Linked DNA regions of Homo sapiens: region 2 is linked to region 1. The links come from fine-mapping of genetic effects on gene expression. A gene starts in region 1. The other region holds a variant in brackets. All regions are shown on one strand. Distances are between the middles of the regions. Region 1 holds the start of HIGD1A (HIG1 hypoxia inducible domain family member 1A). Region 2 overlaps CCDC13 (coiled-coil domain containing 13).

Region 1 (10,468 bases):
TACACTTTTGTCGAAAGATGGGACTTTTTTCTCCTAAATTCAACCGTCATTCAAACTGGGTCAGACTAATGACAATTCTACCAAGTAGTGTATACCAGTAGCCTCAATAAAGAGATTTTGGGGGACAAATGTGCATCTTCCACACAGTTGTAGCCATAGAGTGCATATCTAACTTCCTTAAATTATCTATGTGGATCTGTCATCCTATAATTTGTCTAAATCCTTATTTTTTAATATTATGAATAGAGTCCAGCTTATATATAAAAATGTATTTCCTTTCTATGTCTTAAAAATTACTTGCTGTTGAGCGATACTATATTCCTAAAATATAGCGGAATCAAAATTCCTAGTTTACAGTCCTCTACCTCTATTACTTACTAGCTATTTGACCTTTATACCAATCAATCATCAGAGATGATTGAACCAGAGCAACTCCATCTTGAATAGGGGCTAGGTAAGATAAGGCTGAGACCTACTGGGCTACATTCCCAGACAGTTAGGCATTCTAAGTCACAGGATGAGATAGGAGGTTAGGCATTCTAAGTCATAGGATGACATGGGAGATTGGCACAAGGTACAGGTCATAAAGACCTTGCTGATAAAACAGGTTGCAGTAAAGAAGCCAGCTAAAACCCACCAAAACCAACATGGCGACGAGAGTGACCTCTGGTCATCCTCACTGCTACACTCCCACCAGCACCATGACATTTTACAAATGCCATGGCAACATCAGGAAGTTACCCTATATGGTCTAAAAAGGGGAGGCATGAATAATCCACCCTTTGTTTAGCATACAATCAAGAAATAACCATAAAAATAGGCAACCAGCAGCCCTTGGGGGTATTCTGCCTATAGAGTAGCCATTCTTTTATTCCTTTACTTTTCTAATAAGCTTGCCTTCACTGTACTCTATGGATTCGTCTAGAATTACTTCTTGCAGGAGATCCAAGAACCCTCTCTTGGGGTCTGGATTGGGAGCCCTAATAGTAATTGGTTTAAAAGGTGCTTATACTTACAGCTTCAAGGGCAAGGTCTGACTCTTTTTGCACAGTACACAGCAAGGAATTTTTAAAGCAATAGCTAACATTTTTCATGCCAAGCATGGGGCTAACATGCTACATATATTTCCTCTTTAACCATCATTCATGTTACCCCCCATTTTACAAGTGAAAAAAGTGACACTTTGAGAAATCAAATCCAAGGTCACGGCTAGTATGTTGCCAACTAGTTGCTCTCCGCTGATGGGGCAGTATATCTTATTCTCTGGAAATTAACAAGTTAGCTGATGTTAGTTTGAGGCATATACATTGCCTTCAGAAATGAATATGCTTTGGTCACTGCTGCCATTAGCCTTTGTGTTTACAGAATCAAGAGACTAATGACTTCCGGTTGACCTTCATATTGAAGGCAGTGGGGTTTATCCTATAGTTCCTGACTATCCCTACTTATCTTTTAAACCCTCCAGTTATTGCAGCATTTACATCTTTCTTCATTTACCATTATTGAATTTCTATTGAGCACACAGGCAGCATTCAAGGAGATACCAGGATCATCCAGACAAAATATGTGCCTTCAAGGAGCTGAAAGCTACCATATAATCAAAGTATGAAGTTCTCTCTTTTTTTTTTTTTTTTTTTTTTGACAGAATCTCTCTCTGTCACCCAGGCTGGAGTGCAGTGGTGCGATCTTGGCTCACTACAAGCTCCGATTCCCGGGTTCACGCCATTCTCCTGCCTCAGTCTCTCCAGTAGCTGGGACTACAGGTGCACGCCACCACACCCGGCTAATTTTTTGTATTTTTAGTAGAGACGGGGTTTCACTGTGTTAGCCAGTATGGTCTCGATCTCCTGACCTGGTGATCCGCCTGCCTCAGCCTCCCAAAGTGCTTGGATTACAGGCGTGAGCCACCGTGCCCAGCGAAGTATGAAGTTCTTAATCATCCATAGCATGAAATGTTTCTTACATGTATCTTAATTATGAGATGAACGATTTTCAAAATCCTGAGCCCATGACATTTAGTTCCTATCTGTATGACGAGCACTTGGTAGTCTGCCTTGTTTTGTGGTTATATCAAGAAACTCTAACTTAATCACAGATTTCTCCATGGTGCAGTTGTAGATGCTTTGCATCTGAGGACTAAGCTCTGATTTTTTTTATCATGCCCAAATTCCTATCTAAGGGGTCTGGGGAGTCATGCCCCACAAATAATAAGTTATCATCAAATGGGTTTTATTTAACTCTATATATCGTGACTTACTTTCCAACTTGACTCTGGCATAACATTATAAGACAAGGAAGAAAATAAAAATATTTTACCCCAAAACATATTTCTTTGCCATATCTTGAAATGGCCATACAAAGCTGTCCTTTGCGGGGAAAAATTCTCATCTGTAAAGAATCCCTATAACATAGCTAGATCTTTTTCTTCCAGGCCCCCCAATCCTAAAGAGATTAAAAGTCTAGCACCTTTCAAACATCTGAATAGGAAACATTTGTCATCTATTGTCTCTAAAGGCAGCCACTACAAGACTTCAAAAGAACCTTGGTCTCCACAATCTTTTATCTTAACTTGAACATTCCCTTTCTGTTGATCCCAGGTCTTCAGACAAACTCAACCAATTATCAACCAGAAAATGTTTAAATTTACCTATAGCCTGGAAGCCCCCTCCCCTCTCGCCTTTGAGTTGTCCCCCGTTTCTGGACCAAACCAATGTATTTCTTAAATGTATTTGATTGATGTCTCATGCCTCTCTAAAATGTATAAAACCAAGTGTGCCTGGACCACCTTGGGCACATGTTCTCAGGACCTCCTGAGGGCTGTGTCAGGGGCCACGGTCACTCACATTTGGTTCAGAATAAATCTCTTCAAATATCTTAGAGTTTGACTTTTTTCGTTGACCCACCAATTGGCCGGATTATTACTCATTATTTACTTGACAAACACATTAGGAGCCCTGTCCCCGGAAGCTCGCTGTCACGAGGGGCCTCTGACATCTCCTTCTTGAGAGAAAGGTCGCCTGGCCTGGGTGAGGTCGTAGTTCCCGCGACCCCGTGCTTGCAAGTACTGGCTGCCTCCTACTATAGTGTAAGCTCCAGGAAGGATCCCGCGGGGGACCTGACAGCTCACGGTCCTGGCCGACAACCGCCCTGGGAGCGGAATGGATGGAGCCCGCAGTCGTCCCGGCGCACTGGGCAAGCTCTGCTCCCACTGTGGCAGGCCAGATCTCCATTAGCAACCAGAGCAGCTCTCACCAACGCCTCACTGTCATTCTGATGCATGTATAAGTTAAACATTGGAGAAACTGGTGCCTTAGGAGAAAGGCTAGAATGTAAAGACAAGTCCATTAGGATCCCGCCTGAGCTTTTTCAACCCCTAGAGTTTAATTAAAATAATGGAGTTGTTCTTGCACACCTTGTACCAGGACCCACTTTAGATTATTTCCAAGGCTCTGAAGCAATTGTCTAGACACCTGACCCTATTACCGTTAAAGATTGGCTTGAGTGAAACACTTTGGCTTTCGACTTGTAAATGCACTGAATGTATTTAAGCACTAGAAAAACTTGTATTAATAATTTTGAGTTGGTCTGGTGAGTTACTCCGACCTTCTCCCTGTAACCTGTTGCAGAAATAAACTCCGTTCTTTCCCAGTCTGTCTGCATCTCGTTACTGAACGGCGAGAACAAGCAGTCGGACCCGGGTGGGTCGGGGAACACAACCTCACCCGCAGCCGAAACCCCTCACCCGCATCCCTTCCCGGCCCGTGAGGCGTCCGCAGGCGGCGGCGCTCGGGACACGGCGTTCGCGGTGCTCGCCTCCGCTGCCCGAGGGGAAAAGGGCAGGAGAAATCTGAGGAGTCCTTGGGCCAGGAGCCAAAGCCCCTCAAGTGCCCGGGCGCGAACCCCAGGCGCCGAGCTCTCACGTCTGTCTCCGCCAGTACGCTAGAGCCGGGGTAGTGGGCCAGCACTCACCGGCCCAGCCAATCCAGGACCCGCTCTGCACTGCCCCACCCGCCGCGCACACGCACGCGTCCTTTTGCGGCCGCTGGCCTCTGATTGGCTGGGACGGCTGTGGGTGGGGAGAAGCCGGGAGGACTGGGTGCGCCTGCAGGGATCGGAAGCCGGTTGGGGTGTGAGAGGTTTTCTCGCTCTAGGTAAGCGAAACAAGCCGGGGGACTGCGAGCCAGGGACTCGGGCCGCGGGGCGGGAAGAAGTGGGGCAGCGCTTGGCCAGGCCGAAAGGACTTTGGGGGTGGGGGCTGGGAGTCCGTGTCTCGAATGAGGGAGGAGAGGTGGAGTTGCCGGGGCTCAGGCCCGGCCTCGAGCATGGGCGGATGAGAGGAGTCGGGAGCCGAGGCCTAGGGTCCTTCGGGTGAGGGGAGACGGAGCCAGCGAGGAGATGGAGCAGAAGCTTGTGGAGTGAGTTGCCGAGCGGGGAAGACTCGCTGATGGGGTGGTAATGAGAGACGGGGGCCAGGAGGGTGTTGACTGGGCCCGACGGCGGGGAGCGAGGAGCGGGAGCTTCCCCGGAGCTTGGAACATTCTGAAGAGCGGGCTAAGCGGCAGGCGAGGCGGGATAGGAGAGCGAGCGCTCCGGTCACGGAGTCACGACAAGGTCACAGGAAGAGAGGCGGCGAGGAAGGTCGGGAGGTTGAGGGGAGGGCGTACTAGCAGAGGACCTTCCAGTCCTGGTCTTGCTTTTCTCCCCGACCTGGTGTTTCCTCCACCCTGGGAAAGTGATAAGGCCTAGGGTCCTGTGTAGTGCTTCTGTGACCGAATTAAATTTTTCTCCTGCCGAGTCGGCGGGTTAGAGATTACAAAGCACAGCGTAAGGGCAGAATTAGGAGCAGCCGACATGATGCAGCAGTGATATTCGCCTTTGTCTTAAATTCCCGGAGTGGGAAGCAGCTATTTCCCTCTTCGGAGTAATCCCCACGACAGGGATCCCTGCTTCCGGAAGTACAAAGGCACTTTGGAGTAAGACAGGTTTGGATGGAAAGTTCTAACAGGTTGAAGCGGTGACAACCTGGTCATGAAGCTCCAGCATGACACACATATTTGGAGTCCTGTATACTAGGAGTTCTCTTTGTGCACCAGAGTCACTTGAAGGGGCTTCTTAAAGATTCCTTGAGCTCTGCCCCAGACCACCTGAATCCGGATCTCCATGCTGGGGCCTTGGCAGCCATTTTAAACAAGCTGATGGGCGACTGATGCAAAATCAGTTTGAAGCCAGCGTTGCTTTAGATAGTAATTCCCGTGACAAAATGACTGTGAAGAAAGATCCTTCATTCAACCTGTTACGTCTCCTGATGCTGGACGGCTCATCTTCCCTTAATGCCTCTTTAGGTTCCCTGTGGAAAGGTCTTCAGTCGTGTCTTACTAAGCGTACAGAATTAATTTGTGCTCTCCAAACTGACTTTAAATATCTGGTTACTGGTGCCTTTTTTAGCGTCTATTCAACTTTCTGACAGAAATCTGGGACAACTACTGTGGGTGGATGAGAAAACGATAATGAAGGAAAGTCTGGCAGTGGTGTAGTGAAAAAAGTCTTTTCAAATCACAATTGAAATTGTTAGATGAGTTAAGTCACTGAAGAAGATTCCGTTTACCTTAGGCATGATTTTTTTATATATATCATTCAAAGAGAACAACGTGGGCTTCTGTTGAGTAATGGATTCTTAAATTTTCTAATCAGAATTCTTATCTGCCAATTTAATCTAATTTACATCAGCAGCGTAAGATTGATGCTTTGGCAATATATCGTCAATCAAAAGAACCCAGGACTCTCTATCAGAAGAGCTGGATTCTAATCCTACCCCACCAGACATGTATTCCTTGTACTGAGCAATTCGTATAACCCTCTCACAACCCTTTCCCCACCTGTAAAATAAGGCTATTGGCTTGGATTATTCATCTGATTTGTTACTCTCAAATTATATGATTAGAACTTATTGTTCCTGATACTTAACCAGTTTTCAATTCAGGTGGCTATAAACCATGAATACTTTGGAAACTTCTACGTGGTAATTAGACAGTTATCAAAATTTTGTATTCAGAGAGTATTTTAGATATGTACTATATGGGAATTATAATATTTTGACTACAGAATAACAAATAACTGATATGTGTTGGATTTTTAAATATTAATCCTTACTAATTTTATTCTGAAATGTACACATAAGGTATTCTGGAATCACAGACAGATTATCATCTGTCGTTTCAAGCAAATAATGACCATTTTGTTCCCCACACCCTGATGCTTACCGCAGGGGCTACTTTCTGAAACCCAGGTCAAATGCCCTATCCATACAAGCTTCAGAGTCTGTATCATAGATGAAGAACGGAGAAATAGGTTTTCTTCTGTTCTTGATTTATATACAGGAAAGAGACAACTAACCCCCTCCCTCCTGAAAGGAGAAAAAAAAAAAAACCTTTTGCTCCATTGACCTGTTGGAGAATTAGAGTCAGCCAGATGTGAGATAATTATAAGAAAAACTACCAACTTTCTTGCTATTTTTAAAAAACGATTTATGTCCTGTTTTTGTTTGTTTGTTGGGTCCCTCAGCAAGGGTCTTGCCTGTTGCCCCGGCTGGAGTGCAGTGGCTGGATCATGGCTCACCGCAACCTCCACTTTCCAGGCTCAAGCAGCCCTCCTGCCTCAGCCTCCTGAGGAGCTGGGACTACAGGTGTGCACCACCATGCCCGGCTACCAACTTTCTTGCTTTTAAAGACAATTCCCAAATGATTTTTTAGTTTAGAAATGATTCAGGCAAAAAAGGGGAAAACATGCTTTTATATCTGCAGAAGTTTTTAGTTTTTAAAAGTGGATTATGGTATATAATAGTTTTGTCCCCTGTGTTGCAAGGAACTAAGACCTCAGGTTATTTCTCTTTTCATAGGTACAATATAAGAAACATAAAAGAAATAAGCACTTAGGTACATACAGTTAGGCATTTTTCTTACTGATTAAACTCTACAAATCTGTATGATTGTTATTTTTTTGTACTCAATATTACTGAATAACCTAAGAATGCTTTCAGTTGTTGAGAAATGTAACTTTTAAATGTATTCAAGAAACATTTGTAGTGTACATATTATATATAGGGTATTGCACCAGGCAGTGGAGTTGGATACAAGCAGAGCAGGTATTGGTCCCTGACTTGAAGGATTCTAGCAAAAGAAACAGACAAACTGGTGCTTATAAGGGTTATAAGGAAAGTACAAGGTCCTATGGGACTGCATAACCAAAGCACTTACGAACTTAAAGAGACAAAAATTTCTGAGAGGAGGTCAATTAAGATGTGAACCTGAGTCCAGTATGGTGGCACCCAGTGGCAGTGTGAACTGTGAGGAGTTCGCCGAGTTCCAGGAATTACTCAAGGTGATGTGGACAGTTGATACAGACTAGTACATTAATTAAACACTACAGTTCCAACAGCTTCCTTTGCAGGGAAGATTGATGCCAGCCAAACCTGTAAACAACTTTGAGTCTTTGATGGCAGCTCATGCCAGTAGGGACAGAGTCATAAAAAACTATATAGCCCAGACCTCAGCAGTAGTAAAAAACCTCTGAGAAGAGAGAGAAAAGAATTTGGACGATTTAATATTGTTAAAGCAACTCAGAACAGAGCAGGCAAAGTTGAAATGGATGTAGTCAGAATGATAAATGACAGGAGCTGGAAGGAGTTTAATGAATGCTGCCGAATTCACTTCAAACCTCCAAATAAACAGAATAAACGGAGATACTTTTTTTTTTTTTAAAGGACCGGGTCATCTCATAAGAGCTAAGCATGACAAATGTCAACAGGGCGGGCTTCCTAGGATGATTTCTGAGCCAGTAGTCCAAGACCTTTTGTTGATTTCAGCCCCACTTAGGCAAGACCTCAAATATAAATAATTCTGATAATTATGGAGAAATCAACTGCTATTTTATACTGATTCTGTTAAAAAAAAAGTTTTGTAACTATTAAAATAATGTTCTGACTCAGTGTAAAAAAAGAAAAACCAAACCTGAAAAAAAAAATGGGAGGAGTTAGCTAGGAAAGAGTATCTGAAGGGGATGGAAAGGGAGGGAAACTCTCACAAGTAGAGGAATCAGCTTGTGCAAAGGCTTAGAGGTATAGAGAGCATCTTAAAAATATTTAATGTGGTCAGAATGTGGGGTTGGGAAGGGAAATGAAAGGATTTGTGATAAACTTCCCCTTTGAGAAGGTCATGTTTTTTTTTTCTTTTTCTTTTTCTTTTTCTTTTATTTTTTAAAATTTGAGACAGAGTCTCTCTGTGGCCCAGGCTGGAGTGCAGTTGCACAATTTCAGCGCACTGCAACCTCTGCCTCCCGGGTTCAAGCGATCCTCCTGCCTCAGCTTCCCAAGTAGCTGGGATTTCAGGCATGCACACCACTATGCCCAGCTAATTTTTGTATTTTTAGTAGAGATGGGGGTTTCACCATGTTGACCAGGCTGGTTTCGAACTCCTGACCTCAAGTGATTGCCCACCTTGGTGCCCCAAAGTGCTGGGATTACAGGCATGAGCCACCGCACCTGCCCGAGAAGTTCATGATTAGATATGAAGGCAACTAGTAAACATACTGGCCTAAAATAAATACAGTGTTTAATCTCTCTATCCAGTCCATTTATGCAGTTTCTTCAAAGCCAGTCTCAAGTGTTTCTCTGTGAAACGTGCCAAACCTCCTTTAGCTAAAATACATCACTCTCTCTAAATTCAGACCTTGTCTGTGTTAGGCTTTTGACAACTAATTACACTGTGATTGAAACCACCATTGCAAAATTATAACTGAGACAGTGAAAGAGATCTGACCTAGCCAAAAAAAGATGGAGCCAGGCATGATGGTTCACGTCTATAATCCTAGCACTTTGGGAGGCTGAGGCGGGCAAATCACTTGGGGCCAGGAGTTTGAGACCAGGCTGGCCAACATGGCAAAACCCCATCTATACTAAAAATACAAAAAAAAAAAACCAGGCATGGTGGTGCACACCTGTTATCCCAGCTGTTAGGCTAAGGCACAAATCACTCAAACCTCGGAGGCAGAGGTTGCGGTGAGCAAAGATCGAGATCGTGCTCCAGCCTGCGTGGCAACTAGACCCTGTCTCATAAAACAAAAATAGAAAAATAAAGCAAAGATGGTAACAGCCCTTTCCTAAAACAAACCCCCTTCTTGCCTGGGGACTAGACTGCCTTTGTAGGTTTAATGAATTAGCCACAGATTAGAAATTATGGTTTAGGAGTCGTGCAGCTGGAAGTTATAAGATTCTTTTTTTTTTTTTTTTTTTTTTAATTTATTTTTTTATTGATAATTCTTGGGTGTTTCTCACAGAGGGGGATTTGGCAGGGTCATGGGACAATAGTGGAGGGAAGGTCAGCAGATAAACAAGTGAACAAAGGTCTCTGGTTTTCCTAGGCAGAGGACCCTGCGGCCTTCCGCAGTGTTTGTGTCCCTGATTACTTGAGATTAGGGATTGGTGATGACTCTTAACGAGCATGCTGCCTTCAAGCATCTGTTTAACAAAGCACATCTTGCACCGCCCTTAATCCATTTAACCCTGAGTGGACACAGCACATGTTTCAGAGAGCACAGGGTTGGGGGTAAGGTCACAGATCAACAGGATCCCAAGGCAGAGGAATTTTTCTTAGTGCAGAACAAAATGAAAAGTCTCCCATGTCTACTTCTTTCTACACAGACACGGCAACCATCCGATTTCTCAATCTTTTCCCCACCTTTCCCGCCTTTCTATTCCACAAAGCCGCCATTGTCATCCTGGCCCGTTCTCAATGAGCTGTTGGGCACACCTCCCAGACGGGGTGGTGGCCGGGCAGAGGGGCTCCTCACTTCCCAGTAGGGGCGGCCGGGCAGAGGCGCCCCTCACCTCCCGGGCGGGGCGGCTGGCCGGGCGGGGGGCTGACCCCCCCCACCTCCCTCCCGGACGGGGCGGCTGGCCGGTCGGGGGGCTGACCCCCCACCTCCCTCCCGGACGGGGCGGCTGGCCAGCCAGAGGGGCTCCTCACTTCCCAGTAGGGGCGGCCGGGCAGAGGCGCCCCTCACCTCCCAGACGGGGCGGCTGGCCGGGCAGGGGGGCTGACCCCCCCCACCTCCCTCCCGGACGGGGCGGCTGGCCGGGCGGGGGGCTGACCCCCCCACCTCCCTCGCGGACGGGGCGGCTGGCCGGGCAGAGGGGCTCCTCACTTCCCAGTAGGGGTGGCCGGGCAGAGGCGCCCCTCACCTCCCGGACGGGGCGGCTGGCCGGGCAGGGGAGCTGACCCCCCCCACCTCCCTCCCGGACGGGGCGGCTGGCCGGGCGGGGGGCCGACACCCCCACCTCCCTCCCGGACGGGGCGGCTGGCCGGGCGGGGGGCCGACCCCCCCACCTCCCTCCCGGACGGGGCGGCTGGCCGGGCAGAGGGGCTCCTCACTTCCCAGTAGGGGCGGCCGGGCAGAGGCGCCCCTCACCTCCCAG
Region 2 (16,420 bases), 46 kb after region 1:
TGATAATTATTTCCATGCATTCTTCCACTTAATCTCACAAACTCCCTGTGAAGTTCGTAAGTATCAGAGTCCCATTTTACAAATGGGAAACGAAAGCAAAGAGGTTAAGTAATTTGCCTGGGGCACAGTGTACATTCAATGAGTACCAGTTCCTCAGTGACTTCAAGTGCAAATTGGGAGTAGAAAAGGAGAAAAGCTTTACAAGTTACTGTGTTCATTCATTCAGTGACAATTCTACAAATGACAGTTGAAGGCCTGTTCTGGGCAAGATGTTGAGATTTAGCAAATGAATAAGGTATTAGGACCCCTGCCCTTAAGAGGTCTCTTTGTAAAGGGAAGTAATGTAAATAAAATAATAGATAATTATAATACACTGAGGTTAAGTTTAGTGATCAAGGGGTGCCCTAGGGATTCTGGGAGTCCACAGAGTGCCCTGAGGGGAATCCTAGAGGCTAACTGGGAGTTAGTGGGAAGGTAAAGGGCTGGGATGGGGAGGCCTGGGAGGAAGGCCTCCCAGGTAGAGGAGTGGCTGAAGCCAGCCTCTGAGATGCCACTGGGCTTAATCCACAGCAGGAGCCACAAACCCAAAACATCTGCTGTGGCTGATGGGAAATAAAAGTGAATCCAGCAGGTTTAAGAGAAAGAACAACATTTATGTGCAGTGATAATGGGCAGCTGATGTGCCAGCTGCAGCATCTGGAGGTGGCAGGGACAGTGGTTTAATGGAAAGAACCTATTATGCACCAAAGGAACTCTCTGCATAGCAGCTGCTGTCCGTGTGGGACGATGGGCCCAGCATTGCCAGATCTGTAAACTTTTATAAAAGAAGCTGGTGTAAACTAAACATAAAATTCAGAGGCCCCCCATCCATCTGAATGGACTTCCTTCTCAGCCAGGGCACTCCAAAGTTAACCTGAAAGACCAGTTCAGGCCTTGATGGGAAGCAAGGGTTGGACACGCCTCATTATACCCTCCTCCCTTTTGGAATTCAGGAAAAGTTGACCAACATTTAACATCAACACAGACCTTAAGTCTGATAAGAAACATTTACAATCTATTCTCTCTGAAGCCTGCTACCTGGAGGCTTCATTTGCATGATCAAAACTTTTATCTCTTTTATTCTAACCCAGATATTCCTTTCTATTTATAGTAACTCTTTTAACCAATTACCAATCAGAAAAATTTTAAATCTACTTATCACCTGGAAGCTCCCCCCTCCCAACCTTGGAGTTGTCCTGCTTTTCTGGACCAAATCGGTATATATCTTAAATGTATTTGATTGATGTCTCAGGTCTGCCTGAAATGTATAAAACCAAGCTGTGCCCTGACCACCTTGGGCACGTGGTCTCAGGATCTCCTGAGGGCTGTGTCACAGGCCATGATCACTCACATTTGGCTCAGAATAAATCTCTTCAGACTGGGTGCAGTGGCTCACACCTGTGATCCCAGCACTTTGGGAGGCTGAGGTGGGTGGATCACTTGAGATCAGGAGTTCAAGACCAGCCTGGCCAACATGGTGAAACCATGTCTCTACAAAAACATACAAAAATTATCTGGGTGTGGTGGTGCATGCCTGTAGTCCCAGCAACTCAGAAGGCTGAGGCAGGAGAATTGCTTGAGCCCAGGAGGCAGAGGTTGCAGTGAGCCAAGATTGTGCCACTGCGCTCCAGCCTGGGTGACAGAGCGAGACTTCATCTAAAAAAAAAAAAAAAAAAAAGTACATCTCTTCAAATATTTTACAGAGTTTGACTGTTTTTGTTGACACTGGAAATCTGATATTGAAACTACAATTCTTTGAATGTTGGCAACAAATTCAAATCCTAACATAGTGTTCTGTAAGAGCCAAACAAAAATGTCTGTGGGATGTGTTAAACTAACTGTAGCCTAAAGCTGCCTTCTTATATATTCTAAGTTCAGCCTAAAGGTTTCTCTGTACGTAGTAAACTGTAACCTGACTAGGAATTTAAACAGACTGCAATCTACTCTTGTACCAGTCACAGAGTTTCAGCCAATCACAGGCAGCCAGCTATTCAAATTGTATTCAAAAAAGGCAAACAGCCAGCTGTAATCAGTCTAGCTGTTTCTGTACCTCACTTGTGCTTTCTGTTCATCACTTTCCTTTTTCTGTTCATAAATCTTTTTCGACTAGGTGGCAGCCCTGGAGTCACTCTGAATCTGTTCTGGTTCTGGGGGCTGCTAGATTTGTGAATCATTCTTTGCTCAGTTGAATTCTGTTAAATTTGATTTGTTTAAAGTTTTTCTTTTTTTATTTTGGAGACAGGGTCTGACTGTCACCCAGGTTAGAGTGCAGTGGCGCGATCACAGCTCATTGTAGTCTCAACCTCCTGGGCTCAAGCTGTGCTTCCACCTTGGCCTTCCAAAGTGCTGGGATTACAGGTGTGAGCCATCATGCCTGGCCTAACGTTTATCTTTTAACAAAGGATATAGCCTTTGGGCCAGCTATTATACTCACATGTATTGTTTATTACAATGAAAGAATACGGGTCAAAATCAGCAAAGAGACACATAGGGCAGAGTCCAGGAGACACCAGGTGCAAGCTTCCAGTTGTCTTCTCCCAGTGGAGTCATGTTGACAGTACTTACTTCTCCCAGAAACAATTCGTGGCAACTTACATGGAGTACTGCCAGCCAGGGAAGCTCCCCTGAGTCTTGGTGTCCAGGGTTTTTATTAGGAGATGGTTACGTAGGTACAGTTGACCTTAGTCACTCGATCTCCAGCCCCCTCCAGCCTACCCTGCACCTGGCAATGAATCACATTGTTAATTAACATGGACTGGAATGGCCCAAGGTCCCCAGGTGAAGAAAAACACTCTCATCAGGAAGGATGGTCCAAGGGCTCAGAGATTCTCTCTTAGGAGCGGGTCAAAGGCCAAACATGTTTTTTGGAATGTGCGGGTGTGCACAATACAGGTTTTCAGAGTTAATTCTTTATAGTTCCTCTTACTGGGCAGAGCTGCCTGGTAAGGAATTTCAACATAACACCAGCTTCTGCTTTTGTTTGACCTTTGCCAAACCCTGGGCTCAGCCCACAGCACATTAAAACCAGCTGGGCAGCAGTTAAACCATCCCATGCTTGGTCTCCACTCCAGACTAATTTAAATCAGATTCTCTAGGGGTGGGCCTGGTTATCAGCATTTTTAGATTGTATCCTGGGGATTTGGTATTGAAGCAAGTTTAAGAGTAACTGGGTACAGGCTCTGGGACCACCCCTGTGTGTGAGATGGAGATAAGTATATTAAGAAGGTACAGATAGAGCAGTTGAAGCTGTTTGGGTAGGTAGAGTATTCCTCCTGGCGGGTCAGAAAAGGACCATGGTATTCATGCTGGGTGTAGGAGGACCAGCAAGATTTAAGCCTTGGGGGGAGAAGGAGGTATAGGAACAGAGGAGCAAGTCAACACAACTAGCTAGAAGTTAGCATTATGAAAGGGAAAACAGGCTAGAAGGACACAGAGGCCAAATCCAAAGCGCTTAATGCCATTGGACTTGGCTTTGTGGCTAAGGGGCATCTGCTGAAGCTTTTTGCACAGGAGTCTGTCAGGCTCAGAGCTGTGGTTTAGAGAAACTTGTCCCTCAGCAAATGTTATTCATTTGTTCAGCAAGTATTCATTCCATGCCTGCCATATACCAGGCCCTGCTACAGGCACTGAGGATACAGCAATGAACAACACAGTGCCTGCCATTGTGAAGCTGGTGGGGAGGGAGAGAGGCAGTCAACAAGTAAACAAATCAAAATATAATGTGTCAGATGACTCTCAGTGCCATGGAGGAAGACAAAACAGGGCAAGGGCATGGGGAGCGAGGGCAGGGATGCCTTCTACAATAGGATATGAGGAGACCTCTGTGATAAGGTGACATTTGAGAGGAAGTAGGTAAGGTAGATGTCTGGGGGAAGGACATTCCTGGAGAGGTAACAGCAAGTGCAGATACCCCAAGGTGGTTATGAGCCTGGTATCAGTGGGAATGGAGACATGGGGGCAGATTTTAGGACATTTATGGAAAATAAACAAGATTTATGATTAATTGGATGATAGGTAGATGATGTGGCTTGAGGTTGGTTTAAGGCAGGGATGCTTACCACTGGCTACACTTTAAAATCGTGAGGGGAGCATTTAATAATTCCAGTGTCTGTGCTCTATTATTTCATTTATGTGAAGTTCAAACAGACAAAGTATCAAGAATGTACAAGAAACTGATCATTCAGTAACAGTGAGTGATTGTATTGTGACTGTAAATTGTATTGTCTAATACAATTTAAAAATGGGCAAAAAATGTGAATAGACACATCACAAAAGAAGATATACACATGGTCAACAAGCACATGAAAAGATGCTCAACATAACTAGTCAACAGAGAAATACAAATTAAAAACACATTGAGATACCATTTTATTTTTATTTTATTTTAATTAATTAATTTATTTATATTTTATTTATTTATTTATTTTGAGACAGAGTCTTGCTCTGTCACCCAGGTTGGAATGCAATGGCGCAATCTTGGCTCACTGCAACCTCGGCCAGGCTGGAGTGCCATGGCGCAATCTTGGCTCACTGCAACCTCGCCCAGGCTGGAGTGCCATGGCGCAATCTTGGCTCACTGCAACCTCGCCCAGGCTGGAGTGCAATGGCTCAATCTTGACTCACTGCAACCTCTGCCTCCCAGGTTCAAGTGATTCTCCTGCCTTAGCCTCCTGAGTAACTGGGATTACAGGCCTGTGTCACCACACCCAGCTAATTTTTGTATTTTTAGTAGAGATGGGGTTTCTCCATTTTGGCCAGACTTGTCTCAAACTTCTGAACTCCGGTGATCCACCCACCTCAGCCTCCCAAAGTGTTGGGATTACAGGCATGAGCCACTGTGCCCTGCCTATTTATTTATTTATTTATTTATTTATTTATTTATTTATTTAGAGACAAGAATTTTGCTCTTGTTGCCCAGGCTGGAGTGCAATGGCATGATCTCAGCTCACTGCAACCTCTGCCTCCTGGGTTCAAGCAATTCTCCTGACTCAACCTCCCGAGTAGCAGGGATTACAGGCACATGTCACCACGCCTGGCTAATTTTGTATTTTTAGTAGAGATGGGGTTTCATCATGTTGGTCAGGCTAGTCTCGAATTCCTGACCTCAGTTTATCCACCCACCTCGGCCTCCTAGAGGGATGGGATTACAGGGATGAGCCACCATGCCCGGCTGAGATACCATTTTACATACTAATGAGAAAGTCTAAAATTTAGACTGACTAGCCTAAATGCTGACGAGGATGGCGCAACTGGGACTCCCATTGCTAGTAAGAATGTAAAATGGTACAACCACTCTGGCAAACAGTTTAGCAGTTTCTTATGAAGTTAAACATAAATTACCATATAAGCCAGAATTTTCACTTCTATGTATTTACCCAAGAGAAATAAAAACATACATTCACACAAATACCTTCTTATACATGAATGTTCATAACGGCTTTATTCATAATAGCCAAAACTGGAAACAGCTCAGATGTCCAATAACAAGTGAATGTATAATCAAATTCTTGTTTATTTAAACAAGGTAATATTACTCAGTAATAAAAACGAATGAGCTTATAATGTGTGCAATGACATTGATGAATCTCAAAAAGGTAGTGCTGAGCAAAAAAGAAGCCAGACACAAAAGGCTAACGACTGTATGATTCTAGTTATATGAAATTCCAGAAAAGGCAAAACTGTAGTGAACAAAAGCAGACCAGAGTTTGCCTGGGATTGGGATTGGGATTGGCTGGAAATTGACTGCAAAAGGGCACAAAGGAGGATTTTGGGGTGATGAAAATGTTCTTTCACGATGGTGGAGGTGGTTTACACAAGTGAATATATTTGTCAAAACTCATTTGTACACATAAAATTTGTGTTTTTTTTTTTTTTGGAGACAGGGTCTCACTGTTACTCACAATGGAATATAGTGGCACAATCATGGCTCACTGCAGCCTCCACTTCCTGGGCTCAAGCGATCTTGCCACCTCAGCCTCCTAAGTAGCTGGGACTACAGGCATGCACCACCACAACCAATTTTTTGTAGAGATGGGGTTTTGCCATGTTATACAGGCTGGTCTCAAACTCCTGGTCTCAAGCAGTCTACTCACCTTGGCCTCCCAAAGTGCTGTGATTGCAAGGCATGAGCCACTGCACCCAACCTGGTGGATTTTATTGTACATAAATTATTCTTTGATAGACTGACTAAAAAGAAACCAGACAAAATTAATCTTAGGTGGTAGCGGTCAGAATAATGGTTACCTTGGGGGATGATTCACTGGAAGGGGCACAAAGTAGCCTGCTCAGGGACCGTAAGTGCCCTGTACCTTGATCTGGGTGGTCACCACAGAGGTATATGTCTATGGAAAGATTCACTGAGCCGTATGGTCAGGATTTATGTACTTTATTGCATGTGAATTATACCTGAATTTAAAAAGAAAAAGAAGAAATGATGGCCAAGCCCTGTTCCTAGAAACTGGGATTTAGCTGGTCTGGAAATGGTCCCAGGCATTGTTATTTAGGAGTTCCTAGGGGATTTCAATGTTCAACCAGAGTTGAGAACCATTGATTTAAGGGACAGGCAAGAGTCAAGTGTTGAGTCTGAGTGATGGAGACTATTCTGATGCCATGTGCAATCTGGTGGCATGTTCAGGAACTGGGGAGGATGCTCAGTTCAACCTTGGGTTTCTAGTGATCTGAGGTGAGGGTGGAGCTTCCAAGCTTCTGCGTGGACATACATGCAACGCGAAGCAGTAAACTCCAAGGCTGGGGCTGCAGACAGGGCGGACTGTGTGCTGAGCGCTCGGTGTGGAGTTTGCTTCAGCTGAGGCTTCATTTCTGATGCCTAGGGCAGGATGGCAGCAGATGAAAGCTCACAGAACACTTTGCGGCTCCAGTTCAAGGCAATGCAGGAGATGCAGCACAAACGGTTACAGAAGCAGATGGAGAAAAAGAGGGAAAAAGAACTGAGCCTCAAAAGCAGAGCTGACGACCAAGAGGAGCCCTTGGAGGTTTCAGATGGCCTCAGCCTTCTCCACGCAGGGGAGCCAAACTCGAAAAATAGCTTTGAGAAGAGGTAAATGCAAGTTTGAAATCTCTCAGGGGTGTGTGTGTGTGTGTGTGTGTGTGTGTGTGTGTACCACCGGAGCTATAGCAAAACTTGTAAAATGCAGCTAAAGTGATAGAAGGAAGCTTAGAGCCTTAATTATAGCTGCATTTAACAAGTTTTGATACAGCTTCTGTGGTCAATCCATTCTAAATGCTTTATAATACATATTATGATTTCTTCTTAACCCATAAATAATTTAGGAGTATAGGGTGTTTTTCTAGTTCCAAGCATATGATGAGTTTTGGGTTTTCTTGTTTTATTTCTATTTTTTATTATTGATTTCTAAAACAGTCACTTGCCATTAGAGAAAATAGTCTGTATAATGTTATTATTTAGAATTTGCTAAGATTCCCTTTATAACCTATAATACTTTTTTTTAAGAGACAGAGTCTTGTACTGTCACCCGGGCTGGAATGCAGGATGATAGCTCACTGCAGCCTCAAGCTCCTGGGTTCAAGCAATCCTTCCACCTCAGCTTCTAGAGTCACTGGGATTACACGTGTACACCACCATGCCTGGCTAATTTTGTTTTCTTTTATTTTTAGAGACAGGGTCTTTCTTTGTTGCCTAGGCTAGTCACAAACTCCTGCCTTGGCTTCCCAAAGTGCTGGGATTAGAGGCATGAGCCACCACACCCAGCCCTGTAATATATTTTTATGCATGTTCCATGGATGCTTAAAAGAAATATGAATTATGAGTGGGTTTTTTTATAACTCCCTATTTAAGCCAGCTAATGAACGACATTGAAATCTTTCTTCTTTCACGTCAGTGTGTCTGCATCTGCGTGTCCATCTGTCCACCTAGGCAGTGGAGGCCTGACCCCTGCCCACCAGGGCCTTTGCCTTGGAGGAGCATTAATTCTGCCTTTGCCTTGTAGGGTGCTTGAAGATGAGATTGAACACCTTCGAAATGAGCTCAGGGAAACGGTGGACGAGAACGGGCGATTGTATAAGCTGCTGAAGGAAAGGGACTTTGAAATCAAACACCTCAAAAAGAAAATAGAAGAGGACAGATTTGCCTTCACAGGTAGCTCCACCATTGTTGTGATAGTCCTTGCCCTGCAGTCCAGGGACTTCAGATAGGGCAGACAGCAGGTTCCAGAGAGCAGATTCCCAAGAGAGTGCCAAGGGTCAGTTGTGATCAAGCTTGTCCAGAGGAGTCCTGGAAGTGAGGGAGAGGGTAGAGGAAAAGAGCAGCCCCAGGGAGGCCAGCCCACCAGAAAATGGGAGCACAGGGAGCAATGAGGGATTTAAAAATGGGCCAGAAGGGCCAGCAGGCAAGCATCATAGGCAATGTTGGTGATCCAGCTGGGACTCATGACAAGGGTTTGCCATCATGCTCGCAGCATGTAAAGGGGCTGGCAGGATCCATTTCTCCTTGGTGCACTGGCTCACATGTTATGTTGTGAACATAAAAAAGGCCCAGCAGCCTGCAGTGAGCTATGATCACCCCCACTGCACTGAACCCTGGGCAACAGAGATCCTGTCTTGAAAAAAAAAAAAGCCCCAGTAGAGCCAGGTATGAACTCTACAGCACCTGCTGTTGCTGCTCCAGAAAGGTAGATGAGTCACCTGTTCTAGGAGGATATCATGGGACCCAACCACCAACAAGGTGTGGGCTGGGTCTTGGCCCTGTAAGTCTGGGCTAGACCTTGGCTGTGTTGGTGGAGACCTCATGGTGGCCCCATGAGTCTGGTGAGGACCTTGGCTTTGCAGGTCTGGGAATGACCTTTGATCATGGTTGTGAGCTGGACATTGGCTCTGTGGTTATGAGTTTGACTTTTGCCCTGCTGATGTAGTGAGGACTTTGGACTTGATTGTCCTGTGTTATGTATATACCCATTGAGCAATTCGCAGATGGCTAATAAATAAGAAAGTATTATAGATGTCACCAATCACGGAGAGCAACAGGGCTGACTCAGCATCTACCAGA[C/A]TATTGTCCTTGCCTTTGAGAGTAAATGCGTTTGAGGATAGGTACGTTCATAGGACCAAAGCTCTGGTCAGTCAATGCTGAATTACAAAGCAAGGGGAATTTGGTATCCTAAAGACTCATGGTAGCCTAATGCACCTCCCTCCATTCTTTGGCCTTTTCTGTCTGAAACAAAAAACACAAAGCCTGGCTAAGGAAGCCTACACTCAGCCTGGTTACAGATTCAGCTGTGGAAGGGGCCACTTGCACTTTTGCAAGGCTGTAGAGAAGCTGATGGGCTCCAGGGGGAGCAGGAGATACATCTCCACCCAGCAGACCTGGGAAGCAGATCTGGGGTTACTCCCTCTTCCCCAGCCCCTCTCATTGTTAACTGTCTCTTGCAAGCTTTGCCAAAGCCCAGACTTGGTTGTGGCCTCATCTGACTGCCAGCCCTAAGCGTCCCTGAAAACCACTTAAATCCAGTCTTCACTCTGAAGTCACCATTTCTGATTTTCATTCTCACGTTTTGGAGAGAAAATCTGACAAGCCCATTTATGTTTTTAATTTTTTTCTTTTTGAGACAGAGTCTTGCTCTGTTGCCCAGATTAGAGTGCAGTGGCACGATCTTGGCTCACCACAACCTCCACTTCCTGGGTTCAAGTGATTCTCCTGCCTCAGCCTCCTGAGTAGCTGGGATTACAGGTGTGTGCCACCACACCCAGCTAATTTTTGTATTTTTAGTAGAGACAGGGTTTCACCATGTTGGCTAGTCTGGTCTCGAACTGCTGACCTTGTGATCTGCCCGCCTCGGACTCCCAAAGTCCTGGGATTACAGGTGTGAGCCACCGCGACTGGCCTCCATTTATGTTTTTAAACTGAGCTGCAAGTGACAGGCTACTGAGAGTTGATAGATCGGTTTCTTTTGGCTGGATTTTTAGTGATTCCTTTGGGTTTTGTTTGCTTACTATATTTTTCGTACAGTTTTTTAGTGATCTAGTGATTACAAAATATTTATTACCTTTTCATAGTCTACGTAGAACTAATATTTTACCACTTCAAATGGAATGTAGAAACTTTACCACCATTCAGGTCCCTTTACCTCTCCCTTTCTATTGCAGTTTTTATATGTATTATATCTATATATATTGAAAATCCCATCAGTCAATGTTATACTTTTTGCTCAACTATTATATGTATTTTAAAGAACCCAAAGGGAAAACTATTCTATTTAGCCAGATAGTTAGCATTTCTGTGTTTGCCCATCCACTGCCGCCCCCATTTATCAAGGGGTTGCAGCTTCAACAGTAGAGCTTGCCTGGAGACAGGGTTGGGAAAGAATAGGAAAAAAAAATACCCAGAGGATTTTTTCCATTCTGTCTGAGCCCCACTTCCTGCTCTTTGGACTAGAAAGACCTTCTCTTGAACCTCTTTCTGATAGCCAGTTCCAGAATTTGTGCTGATTTGAGTCCTGGGAGGAAACGTACCACTGGACCATTTGTAATTCTAGGTCCGGTTTCCTTCCCCAATATGCTTGCTACCATTTATGTCCGGAACCCTCAGGTAGCTGCTTCACACATCCTATCCAGGGCTTTTGGTTGTATTCAGCAAAAGAGACAGGGTAGAGTGCGCTTACTCCATCTTAACCAGAACCAGACCTCTGCTGAAACTGCATTTCTTTAACTGCTAGAGTTCATGATTTTCACAGTGATCCTTTATTATCACCACCCCCGTTACCCTCCTGACACACAACCTATTAAAGGAGCCAGGGAGCAAAGTGTGCCATCTTGGTGCTGAATGGGGCCTGTCTCCCTCTAGATACTCCAGGGCTCCAGGTCTGCTCTGAGCCTTTTCTCTTGGTGTGTCCTTGTCTTCTTCAGCAGACATGAGATTCCAAGGGCAGCTACTCCTAGTTGCCCCACTCACTGCCTCGCCCAGGCTGGCAGGAGCAAGCCTGGGCTGAGGTGATTTGAAAGCCATAAAGTGCCTGTTTGCTTTCCACCAGTTGTCACCCTTCTTCTTGTTCTGAGGCATATGATGGTCATGTTAAAAAGCAGGACTAAAAAATAGGACTGCCAGTTACTCCCTGCTATGGTGTCAGAAGTGTTCAGGAAACTTGCAGACCATCTGACCACCTCTGCCATTGCACAGATAGGGGAGCTGCACTCCAGAGAGGGCAAGGGACTGTCAGGGCTACCCACCTAGTCGATGACGATGCTGGACTAGCTCCCGGTGCCTGCCTTCCACACAGCTCCCATACCATACAACTTCCCCATTCACATCCTCCAGCCACCTTCCACAGCCTCCTTCCTTTGCCCACTGCAAGTAGCCTTCCAGCTACTCTGGAGTCCTTGATGGTCCTCAGATACTCTAAGCACATTCCACCTCCAGACCTCTGTACTTGCCATTTCCTCTGCTTAGAATGTTCTTCCTAGGTGAGAGCACTCTTCATGGTTTGAGCCCTCAGTTCATTCACTCAGGTCTCTCTTCACACATCACCTCCTCAGAGAGCCTTTCCTGGCCACTCCATCTAAAATAGCATCATCTCCCTCGTTCTTACCCCCTTGCCCAGCTCCAGTGTATTTCCTAGCACTTATTCCTGCTACATATTAGAATACATATTTATTTCTTTGATGTTTTAAATTATCTGTCTTCCCTACTTGAATGTAAACCCCATAAGTCTTTTTTATCCACCACTGAATCCCTAACACCAAGAGGACCCAGCACTTGGTAGAAAATAAATATTTGCTAAATGAATGTATGCCTTTCTATTGGGTAGGCGTTACCACCAAATTCTAAGAAACAACCACATAATCTCAGCAGCAGTAAGCATTTATTTAGCTTAAACATCTGGGGGTTGGTTGGGGATTGGCCGATCTAGGCCAGGCTTGGCTAGATTGGTTCCACTTTGTTCAACATGTCTCTCTTCTATTCTTGAGACCAGCCAGCCAGGTATGTTCTTCCTGTGGAGAGGGCATAAGCAAACACAGCGAATTTAACTGCACGAGTGCTTTTCAAGCCTCTACCTTATCTGCACCTTATCTGTTAACATGCTATTGGCCAAAGCAAGCCAAATGGTTGAGCCCAGAGTCATAGAAGGCCCAAGGGGACTACATCCTGCTCATTAGAGGGCACAGCAAAATTACTGGGATATGGATGTAATCCTATCACTGAGGATTACATGAAGCATCGGAGTGATAAACCTGAGTCTCACAGAATTAAAACTCTGCTTTCTGTTTTTATCATTTTCCTAGAACATACTGAACCTCTGAGTGGCTGCATTTCCACTCATTGGAGTTGGGTCCCAGGGCTGCTAGGTATATGGTGACCCTCCTAAGTTAGTGCCCCTTTATGAGCATTCATGCCAAGCAGCTTTAGCTTTTAAGACCCTGGTGCTGTTAGTGGTGGAGCATGAGTTTGATGTGTATGCCTGTGTTTTTAATTGACCTCACCATTCCTTTCATTTTAGGGACAGCCGGTGTAGCCGGAGACGTGGTCGCCACCAAAATTGTGGAGCTATCAAAAAAGAACCGGCTGTTGATGGCAGAATCAGAGGGTGCAAAAACCAGGGTGAAGCAGCTGACCAATCGCATCCAGGAGCTGGAGCGGGAAGTGAGGGGCCTTGGTCATTCTCCCTCTGGAGGGGACTCCTAGCATGGGCAAGAGGGAACCTCCCTAGCTTCTCCATATGTAGCCGGGAGAGCTGAAGTTGGAAGGTTAAGAGGCTTTCTCAAGTCACGCAGTATATGGTGGTGCTGCATTTTAAATCCAATTCTGTTGCCCTCCAACAGGCTTCTTGGTGTCTCTGGCCTCATCTGTTCATCTGTAACCTGAAATCCATCATTCTTTTTTGCCCCGCCTCCTAGACTATTGTTGGAACTTCAGGAGACAGATTATAAGTGTACCATTATTATTTATTAAGCTGTTAGTAAACCCTTGGGCTACTTTTATAGTACGATTAGGGAATGGGTCAGACAATCAATTAAACCCTCTCCATTCCAGAGCGGTTTCTAAAGGAGAATGCTGCCATTAATGATCCTAAAGTGAGCTAAAAGGACACACCACCAAGATAGGTAACCACACACACAATGGCACCAGAGTGCTTTCCTTGGGCTGCACAATCGCTGAGCAGAGTATTAAGCACGAGGTTTGCTTTTTCAGCTGCAGACAGCCCTGACCAGGCTGTCAGCCAAGGGGGCCACCGACGCAGGAGCCAAGCCACCGAGGGCCCAGATGGGAGACAGAGCATTGGTATGAATTCTCTTCTGTGCTGGGAAGTCTGTGAGGCAGCCATGGGCCTGGGCCTCCCCTCCTCCACAGGTGTGTAGGTACCTCTACCCGAGGTCCACCCCCAACCCCCAACCCCGCTGCCGAGCCAGGTGCCCATTGTCTACCATTGCTGCATCCTCAGAGCAGACATCAGAGAACAGTACCGAGTGTATGGCCTGAGGCCAAGAATGTCGTGTCGGAAGCTATGGAGGGTGTAGCTCCAACTCTGTCTCCAGAAAGGAAGGCTGGGAGGAGCCTGAGAACCCTGGAACACTAGAGCCTGAGGATCAAGAGGGAAGGCCTGGTCCAACTGACCTCCCACTGTCAGCCCAGCCATCTCCTGTACAGCATCCTCACTGGGGACACATCCAGACTCCACCTTACTCCAGGGACAGGGAGCTCACTACTGCCCAGTGGAATCCTGTTCTTTATGGGGCAGTTCATATTATGAACACTTTCCCTTTCGTGGGGCTCCAAATCTACAGAGTAAAAGTGGCTATTGGAAATGGGGACTTATTCCCCAGAGCCCATTTTACTAAACCAGTGACAGTTCATGAAACTCAAGAGGTGGGAATTGCAGCTCCATGAAAGGAAGTCAGTCTGACCTAGTGGGTTGGTTTATCCCCAAATCAGATAGTAAATATCATCAGAGTCTAACATTCCAGGAGGCTTCACCAAGGGTTTTCTTGGGAAGCCAGGCCAGTTGGTGAGAGAGGCAGCCAAGCCCCGGGACTCCCAATTTGGTGCTTGTTTTCTAGCCCCATCTTCCCTGCTGCCTGCACCTCAGGATCAGACTGCCCTGTGCCTTCCTTGAGGATAATTCAGTCCTCGCTGTGCAGTGATGGGCCCCTCAGGTTCCGGCGGGGATGGGCCCTCAGGTTCCGAGGTGAATGTGCCTCCTCAAGAGTAGTCTTGTGTAAACCTGTCTCATTGCTGGGGAAGTAGAAGAGGGGCTCTGCCCTCTACAGGGGCTGAGTATTCTTCAGGGCCTTTCCTGGCTTCAGGGGACACTGCTAAGCTGCCCCTGGTTTATTCCACGCATTGAGCACCTCCACATTCCGAACTAGGGCTGCCCTGGATAGGAAACTGCTTGTTCAGCCTGATGGGATTTTCTAAGCCCTGTGGCACAGAGAATCAAAAATAGAGCCTTGACCGGGTGAGGTGGCTCATGCCCGTAATCCCAGCACTTTGGGAGGCTGAGGCTGATGGATCACTTGAGGCCAGGAGTTCGAGACCAGCCTGGCCAACATGGTGAAACACCATCTCTAGTAAAAATACAACAATTAGCCAGGCATGGTGGCGAACGCCTGTAATCCCAGCTACTCAGGAGGCTGAGGCATGAGAATCGCTTGAACCTGGGAGGCAGAGGTTGCAGTGAGCTGAGATAGCGCCACTGCACTCCAGCCTGGGTGACAGAGTGAGACTGTGTCTCAAAACAAACAAACAAACAACTACAACAACCACCAAAAAAACAGAGGCTCTGTCTATGGAGAATCCCAGAGGAGGAATGAGAAGTCATTCGAAGGCAGGATGTGGACAGGGCCTTCAGAGATGGCCCCGGTGCTCTAAGCTCACAGGGGAGTCCACCCTCCATTAAGGTTGCAGCTGGAAGGTGGGACGGAGGAGGGCGTCCCTGAGCTGGCCTTACTGGAGAAGGAAGATGGGGAAGGTGAACTGAGTGTCAGCTGGATAACATTTGACTGCAGCCCAGAGCTCACACGGGAGAAAAGGGGAACGAAAGCCAAAAAAGCTGGGGTGAAGTCACCCATAGAGGGAGCCCTTGAATGGCAGCTGGAGCAGGAGTTTTGACTTTATTCTGTGGCCACAGGGAGCCTGGGAGGTTCCAGGTTCTGAGAGAAGAGTGTGTGATGGGCCGCAGGTCTCAATTCATCAGCACCACGTGTTCTCCCTGGCATCTCCTGATCAGAGCGAGAGCAAAAGCAATGTTTCCCCTCATAGGCTGCTCAGGGCGGCCCAAGCCCGAGCCACACTCCAGAGGCCTGCAGGCTCAATCCACATTCCAACCCTAGGCCTCCAAAGCACATTCCAGAGTGGAGCTGAACACCCTTCCCTCTGCTTGGGGCTTCAGGAGGCCGTGATGTGAGTAGCGTTGGCATCATCTGCTCCCCATGTACTGCGCTTTAGTTATTTTCTCAAAGAAAACAGCCTCGGGTAGGGGAGGGAGCGTACCCATACCCAGGTCCCCCACAAAGCCTGTGGAATTTCACTCTGGGAAGAAAGAACTCTGAAATGGCTTAGAGGTAGGATTAGCTCAACTGCCTAAGCTAGGAGGACGGGGCCTGATCCAGCCCTCTCCAGAACACCATCTAGCCCTCAGCCCACTTGTCAGCTGCCCACTCAAGCCAGGCTAGGCCTGCCAGCATTGCCCTCCATCAGGACCTGCCCCAGACAGCACCCTTGACATGCGTTGTCCTAGCAACCCTCTCAGGTTCCCTGGAGATTGGCATTACATATCCCCATTTTACAGATGAGAAAATGAGGCTTGGACAGGGCATCACTGCCCAGGTTCTAGAGCCAGATCCAATCTGTATGCTTTTTCCATGCTCTGAGCAGATCAAAGAGATGCTGCAGGGTCACTGCAGCCATATGGAAGCACATGTACTCCCACAGCTCTCAGCACCCCCACTGTCAGGGCCACTGGGGCTCATGGCGCTAGAGATCTGACAGGCAGGGCGGGGCGTGGCAGGGGGTGGAGGGGTGTTGCTTCCCAACCCAGGGCAGATTCAAAGCCACACATTCAACAGGAGAAGAGGCAGGCACCCAACAGAGTATGCAGGGATGGCAGGCGGCCAGACAGGAGGAAGAACACAGAAGAAAATATACTTTAAAAAAAAGGATGGCCGGGCACGGTGGCTCACATCTGTAATCCCAGCACTTTGGGAGGCCAAGGCAGGTGGATCACCTGAGGTCTGGAGTTCAAGACCAGCCTGGCTAACATGGTGAAACCCCATCTCTACTAAAAAATATACAAAAATTAGCCAGGCATGGTGGTGGGCACCTGTAATCCCAGCTACTCGGGAGGCTGAGGCAGGAGAATCGCTTCAACCCGGGGGGGCGGAGGTTGCAGTGAGCTGAGATTATGTTTCATATAAGTTC

Evidence for each region. PIP is the estimated chance that this variant, and not a neighbour inherited with it, causes the effect.
Region 2: its variant is fine-mapped to the expression of HIGD1A in whole blood (TOPMed, PIP above 0.99).

Annotation. Positions count from the first base shown.
Region 1 is chr3:42,798,119-42,808,586 of GRCh38, reverse strand. HIGD1A (HIG1 hypoxia inducible domain family member 1A) reads left to right here and starts at 4,097. Exons shown (of 4, transcript NM_014056.4): 1 at 4,097-4,151. It also overlaps the pseudogene MIX23P4. RefSeq lists an enhancer at 2,263-3,060 and a silencer at 3,922-4,141.
Region 2 is chr3:42,748,801-42,765,220 of GRCh38, reverse strand. CCDC13 (coiled-coil domain containing 13) reads left to right here. Exons shown (of 16, transcript NM_144719.4): 2 at 6,870-7,096; 3 at 8,007-8,155; 4 at 12,504-12,646; 5 at 13,196-13,285. The coding sequence starts at 6,876. Among named protein-coding and RNA genes, the nearest start is that of CCDC13-AS2, 14 kb to the left of the region's middle. The variant C/A (reference allele first, on the strand shown) is at 9,062.